Regions from separate parts of the Homo sapiens genome. Here regions 2 and 3 are each linked to region 1. The links come from fine-mapping of genetic effects on gene expression. A gene starts in region 1. Each other region holds a variant in brackets. All regions are shown on one strand. Distances are from middle to middle.

What was found. PIP is the estimated chance that this variant, and not a neighbour inherited with it, causes the effect. A credible set is the group of variants that fine-mapping cannot tell apart.
Region 2: its variant is the best candidate, but not a certain one, in a credible set for the expression of CASP8 in whole blood (GTEx, PIP 0.58).
Region 3: its variant is the best candidate, but not a certain one, in a credible set for the expression of CASP8 in prefrontal cortex (BrainSeq, PIP 0.71).

Annotation. Positions count from the first base shown.
Region 1 is chr2:201,258,714-201,262,954 of GRCh38, forward strand. CASP8 (caspase 8) reads left to right here and starts at 1,823. Exons shown (of 9, transcript NM_001372051.1): 1 at 1,823-1,900. RefSeq lists an enhancer at 1-127.
Region 2 is chr2:201,284,571-201,288,811 of GRCh38, forward strand. It overlaps CASP8 (caspase 8), which reads left to right. Exons shown (of 9, transcript NM_001372051.1): 8 at 246-747; 9 at 1,889-3,139. The coding sequence ends at 2,024. FLACC1 (flagellum associated containing coiled-coil domains 1) reads right to left here. Exons shown (of 15, transcript NM_001127391.3): 15 at 3,701-4,211. The coding sequence ends at 4,085. Among named protein-coding and RNA genes, the nearest start is that of CASP8, 26 kb to the left of the region's middle. RefSeq lists an enhancer at 3,860-4,004 and a cis regulatory region at 3,932. The variant G/C (reference allele first, on the strand shown) is at 2,146.
Region 3 is chr2:201,319,737-201,323,977 of GRCh38, forward strand. The region is part of intron 9 of FLACC1 (flagellum associated containing coiled-coil domains 1); the gene reads right to left. Among named protein-coding and RNA genes, the nearest start is that of FLACC1, 35 kb to the right of the region's middle. RefSeq lists enhancers at 224-725, 726-1,225. The variant C/A (reference allele first, on the strand shown) is at 2,527.

The sequences.
Region 1 (4,241 bases):
TTTTCTTTTTCATTTGGCCCTGGGGCCGACGGTTAAGTACTTTATTCTGTCATTCTGTCGAATCACGATGCCCTGAGGTGCACAGCCCCTTCCCCCTCTTCCGTGTCTGAAGGGTTTCCTTTTATCTCTCCACCCCCACCCTTGCCCTCCTGCCCTCTCTCTTGTTCCCCAAAGACAGTTCTCTAATGTTTTGATGTGGATTCGTGAATTTATCTGTATCTTTGCAAAATGTATTTTTCTTTTGTATGTGTACACTGTTTTTTAACTATGCGATCTCAGGCAAGTAATTCCTCTGTGCCTCTGTTATCTCATCATTAAATGATTAATAATGCCTCCAGAGGTGACTGTGAGGCTTGAAGGAGATAATACGCATACATCACTTACTACACGAGTTAGCAATTATTATTGCATATTAATACTATTGGTATTTTATTTTGCTCATTCTGTTTCTATTTCTTTTTTATTTATTTATTTTTTGAGACAAAGTCTTGCTCTGTCACCCAGGCTGCAGTGCAGTGGTGCAATCACGGCTCACTGCAGCCTCAACATCCTGGGATCAAGCAATTTTCCCATCTCAGCCTTCAGATTAGCTGGGACCACAGGCGCGTGCTACCACACCTGGCTAATTAAAAAATTTTTCTTCATAGAGATGGTGTCTCATTTTGTTGCCCAGGCTGGTCTCAAACTCCTATGCTCAAGGGATCCTCCCACCTTGGCCTCTCAAAGTGCTAGGATTACATGCATGAGCCACGGTGGCCATCCAGGCATTGATATTATGAGGCCATCTTGACCTAGCCCTCTCTGGTGAAGAGTCCTTTTCAGATACTTCGTTCAGTCTTCTCAGCTATGAGTCCCTACCCTCTGAAAGCTTATATTCTATTTGGGGAAAGACAAAAGGCAGTTTCAAAGAAGAGAGGTGTTTGATTTTCTTTTCCTACTTTTAATATCAGAAAACATTTCATCTAACTCTCAGTATGAAGGCAATATTTTGTTTACTGGTATATCCCTAGAGCCCAACATGGTGAGGGCCCCAGGATTTGCTTCTTTGATAAGATGGTAAACCCAGCTTTCAGCTAACTTCATGGTTTCCTCAGCTACACTCATATACAAGGATCACCTTTGGTAAGATGGACTTACCATCTTACCAAAGAGTTTTTGCATTTTAGAGTTTTTTCTTTTTAGATTTTTTTCATTTTAGAATTTTTTTATTTCAGAGTTTTTTCTTTTTAGAGGTTTTTCATTTTAGAGTTTTTTCTTTTTAGAGTTTTTTTTTTTTTTTAATTTTAGAGTATTTTAGGCTGCTGAGGGTGGAATCTGGTGACCTTGGGGCCACAGAGATGCTCCTTGGCTAAACCAGGGGCTTTAGCTCTGAAAGTTCACAGCCACCCTGAGAACCAAGATGAGAGGGCTCTGCAGTGTCCAATCTCAAGACCTCTCTGAGGTGCTCCATCAAGATTCATTGAATGAAAAAATTAAAGTCTTAATGATGAACCCAGAAAAATCTTTAAATCCTAAATATGAAATGAAAGTGTTCTTAGTTACAATCCAGTCCAACGTCCTTGTTTTGGAATGTGGAAATGAGGCCCCAAAGGTAAAATGGCCCATCCAAAGTCACAGCCAGGGGCCAGTGCTCAGGTGGCCAGGTGCCCTGCGTGCGGTCTCCTGGACCACCAGGCCTTTTTCCTGCAGCTTTAGAAGCTTTAGAAGGCACTCTGCTCACTCAGGGGCAAGTGGTAAGCGCTCTTTCCCCTCTAGTGTTTGTGACTCAGGAGTTTCGAAACAGGAAGTAGAGCTGGCTGGCTGTGCCCTTCCGTCCTTCATTAGACGTTTGCTCTTGTCTTAGATGCTCAGATGGTAGTGGATAGGCCTGTGACGAAGGTGCTACCATCGTGAGAGTAAGGTAAGGATTTGCCTCTTTGTTAAGGTCAGAGGGGCCTTTTGGGAGGAAGGCCTTTGATTCTGGAGTTTTCTAGGCTGCTGAGAGTGAGATCGGGTGGCCCTGGGGCCATGGAGGTGATCCTCGTATGTGAGTGTGGATGGGGAAACCATGAAGTTAGTGTAAGAGGTAGCAGTCCCTCTGAGAGCCTTGCCGAGGGCCGTGCAGTTTCCAGATCTGAAGGCCATTCTAGCTTAGACTGATGAAGTCCTAGGAGCTTCTGAAATGCTGCAAGTTTAACTACTTGTATAAAGGCCTCATCCTGATCCCAGTCAAACTTGTGAAATAATAGAAGCCAAAATTTAAATCTCTACTGACTTTGCTGCTACAGCTATCCTCCCACCAACACACATACCCACCAACATACACACTTGCCAACATAAACGCACACACACATACACACAAACACACCCATGTGGTCCTACTAATTCAATTATTTATTTTTTAAAGAAATTAAAAAAGACTGGGCGTGGTGGCTCTCGCCTGTCATCCCAGCACTTTGGGAGGTCGAGGCGGTGGTTCACCTGAGGTCGGGAGTTTGAGACCAGCTTGACCAACATGAAGAAACCCCGTCTCTACTAAAAATACAAAATTAGCCGGGCATGATGGCGCATGCCTGTAATCCCAGCTACTCGGGAGGCTGAGGCAGGAGAATCGCTTGAACCTGGGAGGTGGAAGTTGTGGTGAGCCGAGATCGTGCCACTGCACTCCAGCCTGGGCAACAAGAGCGAAACTCCGTCTCAAAAAAAAAAAAAAAAAAAAATTAAAAAGATACAGAACAGTTCAAAAAACAATATAATGGGAAGACTAGATAGACACAATCAGAGACCTGCACTTGTGGGGTTAAGAATTTACAGGTGAAGTTGCAAGTTTCATTCTGTTTGAAAATGATGGGATTATATGTTTTGCTGAGGTTTGGACACCTTTGCTGGGTTGTTTGAATGCCGTGGCTGCAGCGCCCTGTTATGGACATCATGTGCGTGCAGAATGGATGTCTGTCAGGTTCCGGGGCAGCCCGCAGTCTGAGGCAGCCAGCCTGGATTGGAGGGAGTGGCAATACTACCTGCCGGTTAGGGGTTTGGGCCTGAGAGCGAGTGGCTTTCAGGTTCTCTCAAGCTTCGGATGAGATGCAGGTTTCTGCTTCCGATGGCAAATGCATGTTTTGCTTTTTAGTTATCACTGCAAGAGCTAGGATGCTGCTAGAATATTACTGGAATGATTGTGATGAGATGGAATGTATTTACAGTTTAATTGTGACATGTAATACAGTGGTAGAATGGGACTCTGGAATGAGATGCTGGGGCCTAGATTCTAGCACTTCCTTTGTGAGGCTCTAACCCCCTCTCCTATAGTGGATTTGTTAAGAACTTCTGTTTTTGTGGCTTTGTTATTATAAAATTTTTTGAAATGTTGTTCTCTAAAAAAGTTATGATTTTATGTTTTTCTTCATGAGATTCTTTCACTGCCTTCCAGCTGCAAGTAGAATGACGTCTAAATCTTTGTGATCTGTCACTGAAGCCCTTGAGTGAGACACTTAAATCTGGCTGTGGCTCTCTCTCTTACTAGCTTATTTCCAAGCCGTGATTTTTCACAACAGAAAAATGGGGACAGTAATAGTAGTTTCTTCAGAGGCTTTTAGTGAAATGAGGTTAAAAAATATTTTTATGTTTATATGGATATATAGATTACAAACATTTATATATCATTTATTTATATGATTATTATAAACACATATTTATATTTAAATACTTTGGGGCATAAATATATAAAATAATAAATATACTTATGTAATACAAATAGACTTATATACATTTACTATTTAGCAGAGATTATATAAAATATATGTATTACATGGCAACATATTCAAATTTACATATGTTATATATACATGTGGAAAAAAAATTGGGAAAAGGCCACAAAATGTGACCAAAGAATTACTTCCAAATGGCAAGTTTTTAAGTAATTTTTATTTTCTTTTTATACTTCTCTGTACTTTCTCTATGAAACAAGTGTTACTTTTACTGTTTTTAGGAACCAAAAATACAAGTACATTGTTTAAAAAATACTAGCTTAACAAAGTTTCTAGCCCATAAGCTAGTGCAGAAAATCTAGGTCCCATAAAACAAGAACTGCCACACGATGTCTCTCCCCTTACAGTGCTGGATGGCCCGTTGTTAATGGTGTCATAAATCCTTTGCAAGTGACTGTTTTCTAGGTACTATGACTAGAGGGATGTGTAACTTAAGCAAAAAACAAAAAACAGAAAAGGCTGACTATCATCTGACAGTGTATCCTGGAACACCTA
Region 2 (4,241 bases), 26 kb after region 1:
GCAGGCTGAGGCAGGAGAATCAGGCAGGGAGGTTGCAGTGAGCCGAGATGGCAGCAGTACCGTCCAGCTTTGGCTCGGCATGAGAGGGAGAGGGAGACGGGGAGAGGGAGAGGGAGAGGGAGACGGGGAGAGGGAGAGGGAGAGGGGTCAAATTCTTATCTATCAATGTTATGCCCACTGTGCTCTCCAGCTGTGGTCTGTGAATTACTGTGGTATAACGTGACTGTTCAAATTTCACTTTTCAGGGGCTTTGACCACGACCTTTGAAGAGCTTCATTTTGAGATCAAGCCCCACGATGACTGCACAGTAGAGCAAATCTATGAGATTTTGAAAATCTACCAACTCATGGACCACAGTAACATGGACTGCTTCATCTGCTGTATCCTCTCCCATGGAGACAAGGGCATCATCTATGGCACTGATGGACAGGAGGCCCCCATCTATGAGCTGACATCTCAGTTCACTGGTTTGAAGTGCCCTTCCCTTGCTGGAAAACCCAAAGTGTTTTTTATTCAGGCTTGTCAGGGGGATAACTACCAGAAAGGTATACCTGTTGAGACTGATTCAGAGGAGCAACCCTATTTAGAAATGGATTTATCATCACCTCAAACGAGATATATCCCGGATGAGGCTGACTTTCTGCTGGGGATGGCCACTGTGAATAACTGTGTTTCCTACCGAAACCCTGCAGAGGGAACCTGGTACATCCAGTCACTTTGCCAGAGCCTGAGAGAGCGATGTCCTCGGTAAGTTTTGCCTACTCAGCCCTCCTCACTGTTACACTACCTTCCCCCCCTACTCCATCACACTACTATCTACTCATATTCAGAGCCTATTAGAAAGTGCTATGTGATTTAGATCACATTAACAGGTCAGAGAACTGTCCAAGGGGAGTGGTTTCCGTTCAACTCTAAATGTCTAGCTGTAGATCACATAGCTGCATTTCCCAGGTCAGTTACAAAGTGGGAGAGTGGCAAGTGTTAACATCCTTAGTTTATAGATGGAAAAGCTGAGATGCTTTATTCCTTTATTCAGCACCTCAAAGGACAATCAGGGTATCACAGAGCAGGAAAGGATAGGAAAGTCATATACTCCAGCTCTCTGTCTTTAGGCCAAAACATGACTGAGCCAATTCAACTAGTTTTGGAAATCTTCCAAGAAGGCAGTAACCCAATTCAATGTTTAAACATCCTCCAACTCTGTCAAAAGTTCTATAATAGCAAACCATCCTCAAAACCTCTTGGTGCATTATGGGAGATAAATAGCAGGTTCCTTCTAGCCCTGTATTTCATGTTTTGAGTATATGAAGAGTGAGAATTTCCCGTAACTTAGATCATGAATCTAACTTAGATTTCGTAACTTAGATCATGAATCCTGCAAGGTTTCCGCGGCTAGCTACCAAGGTAGAAGAAGAGGTTGCCTAACAAAAATGCTAAGAGATCCTGGTGAGAAGAAGGTGGGAGTAGCTGCAGGAGACGTTATACTTTCACTTGCCTTAAGTTTAATTGCATCAAAGATGAATCCGCAGATGCGATGTCAATTCGAGGCAGAGAGTATTGGGGGGCATTGAAGCAATGGGGAGCCAAGTAACGTGGAGAAGAGTGAGAGACACACAGGTCAGGAGAGAAAGAAACCAACTCTAATACTGACACCGAGGTTTCTGATGGTCAAAAGAGTTCCTGAATAAACCAAAAGTAAGTTATTAAGCTCTGAGACAACCCATTTACCAGGAAAGCTGGGGTAGGTCTTGGTTTCGCACCTTATTGTTTCAAATGACTGATATTTTGAGAGAAAGAACTACAGAACTATCTCTGAGCACAGCAGAGGAGACAGTTCATCAGTTGCTTTCCCCCACAGACAGTCACAATATTATGTGATGTATTTCAGAGGCGATGATATTCTCACCATCCTGACTGAAGTGAACTATGAAGTAAGCAACAAGGATGACAAGAAAAACATGGGGAAACAGATGCCTCAGCCTACTTTCACACTAAGAAAAAAACTTGTCTTCCCTTCTGATTGATGGTGCTATTTTGTTTGTTTTGTTTTGTTTTGTTTTTTTGAGACAGAATCTCGCTCTGTCGCCCAGGCTGGAGTGCAGTGGCGTGATCTCGGCTCACCGCAAGCTCCGCCTCCCGGGTTCA[G/C]GCCATTCTCCTGCCTCAGCCTCCCGAGTAGCTGGGACTACAGGGGCCCGCCACCACACCTGGCTAATTTTTTAAAAATATTTTTAGTAGAGACAGGGTTTCACTGTGTTAGCCAGGGTGGTCTTGATCTCCTGACCTCGTGATCCACCCACCTCGGCCTCCCAAAGTGCTGGGATTACAGGCGTGAGCCACCGCGCCTGGCCGATGGTACTATTTAGATATAACACTATGTTTATTTACTAATTTTCTAGATTTTCTACTTTATTAATTGTTTTGCACTTTTTTATAAGAGCTAAAGTTAAATAGGATATTAACAACAATAACACTGTCTCCTTTCTCTTATGCTTAAGGCTTTGGGAATGTTTTTAGCTGGTGGCAATAAATACCAGACACGTACAAAATCCAGCTATGAATATAGAGGGCTTATGATTCAGATTGTTATCTATCAACTATAAGCCCACTGTTAATATTCTATTAACTTTAATTCTCTTTCAAAGCTAAATTCCACACTACCACATTAAAAAAATTAGAAAGTAGCCACGTATGGTGGCTCATGTCTATAATCCCAGCACTTTGGGAGGTTGAGGTGGGAGGATTGCTTGAACCCAAGAGGTCAAGGCTGCAGTGAGCCATGTTCACACCGCTGCACTCAAGCTTGGGTGACAGAACAAGACCCCGTCTCAAAAAAAATTTTTTTTTTAATAAAACAAAATTTGTTTGAAATCTTTTAAAAATTCAAATGATTTTTACAAGTTTTAAATAAGCTCTCCCCAAACTTGCTTTATGCCTTCTTATTGCTTTTATGATATATATATGCTTGGCTAACTATATTTGCTTTTTGCTAACAATGCTCTGGGGTCTTTTTATGCATTTGCATTTGCTCTTTCATCTCTGCTTGGATTATTTTAAATCATTAGGAATTAAGTTATCTTTAAAATTTAAGTATCTTTTTTCAAAAACATTTTTTAATAGAATAAAATATAATTTGATCTTATTGCTCCTTGGAGATTTTTTGTGTTTGGTTTTGGTTTCTGCCAATGACATCTCACAGGTGGAAAACATCTGGACTACAGACATGTTCTACTTGAGTCTCCCATGATCGGCACACACAGTTGTATTTTTAAAATTTGTTGTCAATGTTTAAAAATTAGGAGATATCACATAAAAACCAGAATAACTTCTTTTAAAAAATCATACTATCTGACAATATTGACCTCATGCTTTTGCATGGCAAAGGTCTGAGAAGCACCTTCTTCAGATGGGACAGTGCTCTGTGGGTCACTCTTCCCCATCCGCTGTGCCCCAGCCCTGCCCAAGCCCCTCTACTGAGGCTGCTGTTGGTTGCCACTTATCACTGTGCTTGGGCAATTGTTTTCCTTATGTCTAGCCCACTTCACTTATTTATGTTGCCTGCACTGTGGGTGTCTGAATTCTGGTGATGGTCCAGAGGAGGTGGTAAGAATCATCAGAAACCCTTCCTAAGTCATAGGTTAGGGAACATGATTGAGAGGTAGGGAAGTAGGGGGCATGGGTGTGAGAGAAAAATATTTTAGAGTAAAATCAACACATCATCTTTTTTTGCTACCTAAATGCCCCAGGGGACAAAGGTACACCTCCCAAATATAGTAAAAGTTCAATATGAAGAAGGCCTTCAAATCAGTTTCTTTCTAACGAAATACGTCAAGGTAGAAGAAAAATAGTACAAAACTCAGAGAAAGCTCAGCTCCCAGTATGGAGAGCATCATTTTTCAGTGAAGAGTCCGTGATAAGCTGTGAAATTCAGATGCGAATTCAAACATTTTCAGACATTCAGAGAGTCAGAGCAACCCAAGAACTAAACTCATTATATGCATTTTCTCAAGAAAACCCTCCCAGGAGTTTCCTGGGCCTACAGAAATGGTGTGCCAACCATCTTCAACAATGCAGAGCAACTTTTTGTTTATGATTCTTGTCCTTTCTTGCTACCATCTTGCACAGTGTCAGAATCATCCTTAGAAACAGTAATAGAGGCCAATCTCCCAGAACATCCTTCACAAATTTCTTCATTCTTAGAAATTATCTTTTGCCTGTAAAAAGAAAGGAAAGATGTATCAATG
Region 3 (4,241 bases), 61 kb after region 1:
TTTGTGTTTTTCCAAAATGGCAGATTAGAGGCATTGCTAGCATACTTCTCCCACTTGGAAAAACAAAATAGTTGTAGAGATTCACACTGAACTTTTTTCAAGGAGCAATGCAGAAACTGAACAGGAAAACCAAAGGAATCTACAGACCCTTTGAAGGAAGCAGGAGGCTGCAGGTTACACTGTGAATCAGGCAAAGGGCTGTGAGTTCCCAGAGTGTGAGAAGGGGGACTCACCCTACATTACTCCTGGAATACACACCCCCACTGTGGACCCTGAAAGTCCAGACCATGGGAGAAAGCCCTAACCCTATGCAGCACAGGAACTGACTTGGGGAGGGATGTGGAATATAAAAGTGGGAGCAGTGGCAGGAAGATTCTTGCACACACTCCCAGATTTCAGCATGGAGAGAGGGAAGCCATTTCTTACTGTTCCTCACGGGGAACCCTGTGGAGGACAGCCAAAAAGTTCAGGCAGTGGTCGCAGGTTGAAAGAAGCCTCCAACTGGGTTTCATGATATAACCTTAGGTGCGGATGAACTCCCTTGGCCAGGGCCAGGGTGGAGGAGAGTGAAAAGTGGGCTGCAGCCATGAGTGCAGGAGCTGCCAGTGCAGGAACTGGGTGCCTGGCTTTGCAGTGGACAGGGAGGGGCTTGGCCTGAAAGCCGTGATTGCTATCTCTGCAGGGAACGTATATGACTCGGGACAGTTGCAAGTTCTGAGTGCAGGCTAACTGGAACTTAGCTTGCTGCTGCCAGTGGAACACTGTGGGAGTGCATCTGTCTTGCCAAGTGCATGGGATCTGTGTGGGGCTCACAGCCACCTGCTTCTCCTCACTCTGCACAAACCCTTCTGTGTGGCAAAGCCAGCAACACTGCCTTTTGGAACATCAACCCAGTGGCCTGAGAACCACTCCCATCCCCTGGCTTCCACAGGGGCTGCTGCTTGCCCTGCACAGGGAGACTCAGAGCGCAAGCCCACCTGAACCAACCCTCACCCTGCTTTGCCCCGTCACCTGCCCTGGTAGTTTAACACAAAGGACAGAAACTCTTGGGGGCTATATAGCCCCACTCATTGCCTGAGAAACCAGAGTAACCCCTCTGGACAACATAAAGCAAGCAAAAGTCCTATTGCTACTATTGCAGCTGGTTCCCTTTTGTAAGCATCACCTCTTGGCTGGAGGCCAACCAACACAGTCCATTACAGCATCTCCTGGTAGAATAACAACGCACCTAGGAAGAAGATGGCTGTGTAATCTCAGCTATCACCACTGCCTGCACCATTCTGGCTAACCAGGAGGTCCTGAGTTTGTCCACATGACCAGTTCATTACTACTAAAACCAGTGTTCGAGAAAGCCAACACACTAAGGCTATCAATAACCAAGGACTCTCACAGAGTCTATTACCCTGCCACGCCCATTAGAACTGGTGCTGCTACCCACTGTTGGGAGACTTGAAGAGAGGTCACATCACTGGATCCCTTGCAGATATTCCCTAGCACCAGCCTGGGGTGTGGTACCTTCACTGGACAGCTAGACCCAGAGACCCTGTTCCCTTAGGAGTGGGATCCCCCTGATCCTAGGGGAACAGGGAGTGCACCACATCAAGAGAACACCCTGTGGGAGAAAATAATCCAGACAGCAGGACTTAAGAACCAGATCTTTCTGCTAGTGGGAAGTTTCTTTCAGCAGAGGCACAGTTGCAGTGCTGGGCTCAGCAGGAAAAGTCTTCAGCTCTAACCCAACAGACAGACAACCCCCCCACCCATTGTCTACCACTGCAGGCACAGTTGGAGCTTCTCCCATTGGAGCTTGGTGTGAGTGCAACTATAGACAGTCTTTCTGGAAGACATCAGGGTGACTGCATCCCCATAGGAGGGGCACCCTCTAGGTTCAAGCTTGTATGAGAGACGTTCACAATTTTTCTCTATTTGGAACATCAAAATTCCTGCAGATGAAAAGAGGTGGCTGTCTGGAGATGAAAAGCTGGAGCACTGAAACAGGAGTGTGTTTGAGAGGGATAACTTTCCTGCTAACCTGGCAGGGGAGCTGAGGTGGCTCCAACCCTTACCCCAGGTAAGACCTCATTGCAACTCACTCCTCCAGCCACCTCTGTCAAGGCTGAGACCTCTGCCCATCACTGGGTATTGCATTTACCCACCTGCTTTAGCCACAGCTGATTCCTACCCAGGGACACCTCCCCTACTGGCCTGAAGCTGGAACCATCAAACTAGTAAATAAAACACTGGAGAAAAGGCCGGGTGCAGTGGCTCATGCCTGTAATCCCAAAACTTTGGGAGGCTGAGGCGGGTGGATCACTTGAGGTCAGGGGTTCGAGACCAGCCCGGCCAATATGGTGAAACCCTGTCTCTACTAAAAATACAAAAATTAGTTGGGTGTGGTGGCAGGCACCTGTAATCCCAGCTACTTGGGAGGCTGAGGCACAAGAATCACTTGAACCCAGGAGGCGGAGATTGCAGTGAGATCATGACACTGCACTCCAGCCTGGGCAACAGAGTGAGATTCAGCCT[C/A]AAAAAAAAAAAAGAAAAAAAAAACTGGACGAAAATGCGTAAATAAAAAAGGGCATGCCACAGGGGAATGAGATAAGCTTTAAGAGACCTCTTATCATTACAGCCCCATAGGAGACAGTGATCTTGCTAATATACCAAGCACATTGCTACTACAACCAGCATCTAAGAAAGCCACATAAAAAAACTCTCTATAACCAAGGAACTATTACAGAGTCTTCACCCCTGAAAGCACCAAAAACCAAATTAGGCCATAATATGATAAGCATTAAAGTCACATCCTTAAGTGGAAAAAAGAAATTAAAAAACAAACACAAAAAGAAACACAGTCAAATCAAACATCAATTCAAGGATAATTAGAAGAAATAATCTACCCAAATGAGGAGGAACCAGAAAAGGAACTCTGGTAATATGAAAAAACAGGGTTCTATAACACCCTCAAAAGATAACACTAGCTCTCCAGCAATGGATCCAAAGTAGGACGAACTCTTTAAAATACCAGATAAGGAATTCAGAAGGTCAATTATTAAGCTACTCAAGGAGATTTCAGAGAAAGATGAAAACTATTATAAATTTAAAAAGCATTTCAGGATATGAATGAAAAATTTTCTAGAGATATAGATATTATCAAGAAAAAACAATAAGAATTTCTAGAAATGAAAGACACACTTAGGGAATACAAAATGCAGCAGAAAGCTTTAACAATAGACTAGAACAAGTAGAAGAAAGAATTTCAGAGCTTGAAGACAAGGTTTTTAAACTAACCCAATCAGACAAAAATAAAGAAAAAAGAATAAAAAGAAATGAACAAAGTCTTCAAGAAATATGGGATTATGTTAAACAGCCAAACCTAAGAATAACTGGTGTTCCAGAGGAAGAAGAGAAAATAACAAGTCTGGAAAACTTATTTCAGGGAATAATTGAGGAAAACCTTTCTGGCGTGGCTAGAGATCTAGATATCCAAATCCAAGAAGCTCAAAGAACTCCTGGGAAATTAATTGCAAAAAGATCTTCACCAAGGCATATAGTCATCAGGCTATCTAAACTCAACATGAAGGAAATAATTCTAAGAGCAGTAAGACAAAAGCATCAGGTAAGCTATAAAGGAAAACCTATCTGAATAACAGCAGACTTCTCAGCAGAAACCTTACAAGCCAGAAGGTATTGGGGTCTTATCTTCAATCTCCTTAAACAGAAAAAAACTGTCAGCCAAGAATTCTGTATCCTGTAAAGCTAGGTTTTGTAATTGAAGGAGAAATAAAAGTCATTTTCAGATAAACAAATGCTGAGGGAATTTGTCACTAGCAAACCAAACTACAAGAAATGCTACCAGCCTGGCCACATGGCAAAACCCTGTCTTTACTAAAAAATACAAAAATTAGCCAGGTGTGATTGTGCATGCTTGTAATCTCAGCTACTTGGGAGGCTGAGGCATGAGAATCTCTTGAACCCAGGAGACAGAGTTTGCAGTGAGCCAAGATTGCAACATTGCACTCCAGCCTGGGCAACAGAGCCAGACTCTATCAAAAAAAAAAAAAAAAAAAGTAAGGAAGGAAGGAAGGAAAGAAAAGAAAGAAAGGTGGGCTAAAAGGAGTTTTAAACATTGAAACAAAAGCCAAATACGCACCAAAATAGAATCTCTTGAAAGCTTAAAACTCATGAAGTCTATAAAGCAATAACAGAATGAAAAAAGAAAAGCTATATACATAACAATTAAC